2 separate regions of the Homo sapiens genome follow, and region 1 is linked to region 2. The links come from fine-mapping of genetic effects on gene expression. Tissue or cell type: whole blood. Region 2 holds a variant in brackets; the other region holds the start of a gene. All regions are shown on one strand. Distances are between the middles of the regions.

Region 1 (2,606 bases), 320 kb before region 2:
TGCCGTGCCCGACGCCCACGGTCGGGGCATGGGAGAGCCTGGACTGCACGCCCGCCCGGGCCCTCCCGGGGACAACTGCATGGGAGGAACCCCAGAGCCGCGACCGCGCCTCGGAGAAGGTGCCCCACACCGGCTCGCCCGACCCACCCACCACCCCCCTTCCGCCCCCAACAGCTCACAAAACCGCGTAGGAAGGGGCGGCGTTCCAAGGCGTGACTCGGCGCCAGAGTGGTTCAGTGCCCTCCAAGGCCAGCCGAGTAGGGGGTCGGCTCCGTAGCCCCAACCCCGCTGGATGGCTGCGCGGGACGGGGTGGAGTCAGTCCCGAAATATACGGCCGGGGGAGGGGACCCTGCTCCCAGTGCGCAACGGATGGGGATGGGGGAGGGGAAGGAGATGAGCCCGGGACCTCGGCGCGGGGGGCAGTGGGGCATCCTCCCGGCAGTCCTGGCCTCCGCTCAGCCACGGTGCTGCCCCGGCGCCCCAGACCTCCCGTCCGAGCGTGCCCAGAGAGAATAAAGACACCTGCCCTCGCGGACAGCCCGGGCCTGAAGTCAATTTACGCCCACGAGACCCGCCCGAGGCAAGAGAACTGTGGTCCCCATTCACAGACGCGGCGACCCCCGCCAGCGGGAAGCCGCGAGGCCAGGGCGTGCTGGTGGGCCGACCTCCCTCCCCGGACGCCTCGCCCCGGCCCGGCCCGGCCCGCCGCCTCCTTACCCCCCGCGCATCCAGCCAAGAAGTCCAGCGCCATGGCCGGGTCCCCGGCGAGGCCGCCTTTCCTCCTCGTCCTCCCCCTGAGGCCCCTCGCCGGGCTGGGCGCCGTCGGGGTCCCCGAGCGCGCGGTGCCGGGGCTGGGCCTGGCCGCTCCTCCTGGCGCGGAGCCCGGGCAGGCGCGGTCAGGGATGGTGGGGATGGCGGCAGCAGCTAGACCCGCGCTGGTCCCTCGGCGGCAGCTGACTCGCTGGATCCCCTCCGGCCCGCGGTCCCTCACCTCGGGCCGCGCGCCCCGCCCCTCGTGCCTGCCGGCAGGGCCCGGGTGGGGGCGCCGAGTGAGGCCAATGGGCGGGCACGGCGCGGACAACACCCCGGGCACTGCGCTTCGCCGCCGCGCCTCATTGGCCGGGCGTGCGCGGGAGGCGGGGCGCGGGGGACGTGGTGGGCGCGCGGGCGGGGCGCGGGGACGCCTCAGACAAAGAGCGCGCTGGGTGCGCAGGTCCGGCGGGAGGGGACGCGCGGGGTGGCGGGGTTGAGCCGAGGACTCCCCCACCCGGAGTACGCGGGGTGGCTCTGGTCTGGACCGGGTCGGGAACCGGACCCTGGGTTCGGAGTCCGGCGCCGCCGCAGAACCTCAGCGCCCTAGTCTGTGCCGTGCGGACCCTGCCGCGAAAACGGCCGTGGAGCGCCGGGACGTTCCGAGGCCCGCAGACTGGGACGCCGCTAGTTGCGAAACTCCGCGAGCGGGAATCGCCCGTGGGGAGCCTCTGCCCGTCCCGCCTGCGCGCCCGCGGCGGCGGTGGCCTCCGGGGCTTCCGGACTCCTGGCCGAACCCGCCGGGTTCTGGGGGTCGGACGCGCACGGGCGCTTCCTGCGGAGCCTGAGGCTGGGATTTGGGCGGAGAGCAGGGAACCTTAAAAGGGAAAGGGGCCATGGGCAAAGGGCGCAGCAGGCCTTCGGGCCACAGCTCCTTCCCGAGGACTGCGGGTCGCGGGAGCCGCGGAAGGTTGTGGAGAGAGGGAGGTTCCTGGACTGGGCTGCAGAGTGGAGTCGGGCCAGATCGCAGCGCCTCCGTCAGCGGCGGCCGGACGGGGCGAGACCGGAGGGGCTCGGTAGGGGCCGCGCTCAGGCGCTGAAGTCGGAGGGTGCTTGGCTCTGGGTCACCAGGGTATCCATGGGCTGCGGGGATGAATGAGAGCCGAGTCTGACTCGGCCCCCCAGGAGTCCCTGACATTCGCAGTGGCAAGGGACTGCCCTGGTCCCTGTGGAGCGTCCCATTCGGTGACTTCCCACCAGCCCTTCCCCAGCGCCTCTGGAGGTCCAGACTGTCAGGTTGGAGCCTGGGAGCAGGGACGGGCCAGGCGCTTTCTCTTCGCTGTAGGAGTCAGATCAGCCTTAGGCCGGGCCCAGCTTCCTTCTTTAGGGCCTGCAGGCAGGCAAGGCCACACCGTGTGCCACGTTTCCAGGTTTAGGGTCACATGGTTCTTTTATCCAAATTCCAGTGGGTACCTACCTCCTGGAGGTGCAGGTCGAAAGGTTCTGTGTATTTGGTACTAGGACACACAGGTAGGTGTTGTCAGTAGTGCAGCCTGGTGCTAGGGGCAGGGGTCCCCAGTGCTCATGTTAGTTTCCTTTTAGAGTCTAAGTAGAATGTTAAGCAGAGACCCAAACCCTAGGTCTGCTGACTCCTAGTCCAGGGCTCGTGATGGCTGGTGGGCCCTGAACGAGGGGTCTGGAGGCCTGGGTTTGAATATCGACAGCCTCTCTGACCCACTTGGTTGCCTCAGGGAGGCAGGTGTGCGGATGGGGGAGAGTGGCCCATGGGCCAGAAAAGCAGTGGTATGGGGGCCCCAAGAGAAGCCCAGACCCAAAAGGGCAGGAGCTGGCTGTG
Region 2 (2,752 bases):
CAGGTCAGCCAGTGACACTCAGCAGAAGAGGCCATGGCTCCTGCACAGAGGTTGAGTCCCAGACCACACAATCAAGGAAAAGCCCCTGGGTTACTCTCCCTACCCCATCTGCCATTGTCCCCACTGGCTGGAGGGCCACTCGAGTTTGGAGCCTGTCCTCAGAGGCCAAGTCCCTGACGCCCGCCAGTCTCTGGCCCCTTTACTCCCTTCTGTGCCCCTCCTGGTGTCTCCTTTGCACGGAGATTGGGTCTTCATCCGGAAGCTCATGTCTCATGTGTTTTAGGACAGTTTCTCCAGGAAACCCTGAACTGAGCCCCACGGGTGAGTGCTCTATGAAGGGGGCACTCCGCGGAGAAACTGGTGAGGGAGCAGGAAGCAGAACAGGGAAGGAGAGGAGGCCAAGCGAAGAGCGATGGCAGGACATCCCTCAAGGACAACTCCAGCCTGATTCCACTGGGAGCCCTGGGGCATAAGGTGCACCCCAGCCCGCCCTGACCCGGCCGGAGCTTTCACACTCCTGCACTGGCCAGTTGGTGGCAAAGTGCTGCCCCGGGAGGCTGTAATTGCCCAGCCATCCGGCTCTCTGGGACCATAGCCAACACAGCTTCAGGAGCTGAAGCAGAACCCCTGGGGGAGGCCACTGAAGCAGAAGCTCGCTGAGGCTGGGGACGGGGTACACAGGATGGAAGGGATCTGCCGGGACACCGACTGGCCGGGTCTGCTCCAGGGTCCTGTGGTCCCACAGCCCCACGGTCCCACAGATGTTCTGCAGGGGTTGGCCAGTCACTTGGAGGCAGTGGGTGTCTGCAATCACGGCCCTCTAGGGTCTGATAATAACTGCAAAGATGAATAGCAACCCTCCCACCGGCCGGGCCCTGGGGCACCTGCTGCCATTTCTGCAGCCAAAGGTGTAGGGACAGGCACCTTTCTGCCCCTCTCAGCAGCACAAGAATGGGCGCTGGGCCTGGAACTCTTCCTTCCCCGAGATAAAGAGGCCCTCACAGCCTAAGTGGGGCTTGTTTCTGTGTGTGGGAAGACTTTTCCCTGATTCAGGCTCTGTGCCTTCCTTTGCCCTCCTTAAACCTGTGCGTCATACGGCATCTGGCCAACCCCCCACTGCGGGGAGCAGGGTAGGGCTCTCCTGCTGCCACACAAGAGAGATGACTGCTGGCCAATGGCCCTGCCTCAGCTGCCGGGAGGGATGCGCTGGCCGTGGGGACCAGTGCCCGCCGCTGCAGCTGATCCTGCCCTGTCCC[G/A]TCTCCATGTGAATAAAGCCTTGTTCCAGCCAGTGCCTCACTGCGTGTATTCCTTGGCGACTCGGAGACCAAGATCCAGGGGTACCCGGACTTCTACTCCCGATAGCAGGCAACGGATGCCTCCTGCTCGATGAAAGGGTCATATCAGACACCAGGACTTGGACAGACACCAGGACACCCCTTCCCCAGCCCTCACTGCGCGCTCTTCCCCAGGGTCAGCATCTCCCACCCTGCATCACAGTTCCCCCTCCCCACATATCACTGAGGGTGTGGGGCATATGACCTGACAGTCAGGTTCGACAGCTCTCCCAAGACCTTCGGCCACATCCTGGGAGCTCCTGGCTTGTTGCGGCCTCTGCCCTTGAGCCCTAAAAGAGCTGGGCCTTGGTGCTTTAGCCACACCCAATGCACTGCCAACGCAGCAAACATCGGATTTACCCAGAGCCTTGTGAGCAACTGGAGCGGGTCCCCAGACCAGACACTTGTGAAATATGCAGACCCCTGGCCCCACTCTCTGAGACCCAAATTCCAAAGGCTGTTGGTGGGCAGGCACCCCAGGTGATTCCAGCTCAGGGGTCTATGGGCCTCACTTTGAGAAACACTGAACTGGGGCAAAATGGAAAAGCAGCTGAAGACAAAGAAAATGGAAGTGGCCACCAGGAGGCCTGATCATAGGTGAGGAAATGCAACCCAGAAGACCAGGACCTTCCAGGGGCGACTTTCAGAGGACCCCAGGAGTCTGGAATTCTCCCCCAAGCCCTACTGAGGCGGCCTTATGAACTTGGATACCTCTCAAAGTCTGCACCCTGTAACAGGAGCTTATCCTTCCTTTTCTGTCCTGATGGGGTATTTATGATCATTGACCACGTATAAGGCCACAGAGTAGACCTTAATTAATATCAACATGCAGATGCTGCCAGTGCCTCATTGGCTACCCACGACACAACAATAGAAATAACAAAACCAAAGACAATGAAAAAAACTCTAACACTCCACTACATACATCTTGAGTCAAAGAAGATGTGAGCATTTCAGCTGCAGAATACTTAAAAAATAATGATCTTGAGAATAATACTTACAGGGTATAAACAAAGCAGTATTACCACTGGCAAATTCGTAACACCAAATATTTTCAACTGCTGGGTGCAATGGCTCACGCATGTAATCACGAGTGCTTTGGGAGGCCAAGGTGGGAGGACCACTTGAGGCCAGGAGTTCAAGATCAGCCTTGGCAACGTAGTGAGACGTTGTCTCTACAAAAAAATTTAAAAATTACCTGGGCATGGCGGTGTGCACCAGGAGTCCCAGCTACTCTGGAGGCTGAGGCAGGAGAATTGCTTTGAGCCCAGGAGTTAGAGGCTGCAGTGAGTCATAATTGCACCACTGCACTCCAGCCTAGGTGACAGAGAAAGACCGTGATAAAATAAAATAAAATAAAGTAAAAAAGGCCGGGCATGTTGGCTCATGCCTGTAATCCTTGCACTTTGGGAGGCTGA

Evidence for each region. PIP is the estimated chance that this variant, and not a neighbour inherited with it, causes the effect.
Region 1: SLC25A29 starts here. The variant in region 2 is fine-mapped to the expression of SLC25A29 in whole blood (INTERVAL, PIP above 0.99).

What each region holds. Positions count from the first base shown.
Region 1 is chr14:100,305,481-100,308,086 of GRCh38, forward strand. It overlaps SLC25A29 (solute carrier family 25 member 29), which reads right to left and starts at 964. Exons shown (of 4, transcript NM_001039355.3): 1 at 719-964. The coding sequence starts at 752. MIR345 (microRNA 345) reads left to right here and starts at 2,379; the gene lies at 2,379-2,476. RefSeq lists enhancers at 1-466, 1,675-1,744, 1,775-1,944 and silencers at 795-894, 955-1,424, 1,515-1,584.
Region 2 is chr14:100,628,735-100,631,486 of GRCh38, forward strand. No RefSeq gene overlaps it. Among named protein-coding and RNA genes, the nearest start is that of LINC00523, 27 kb to the right of the region's middle. The variant G/A (reference allele first, on the strand shown) is at 1,257.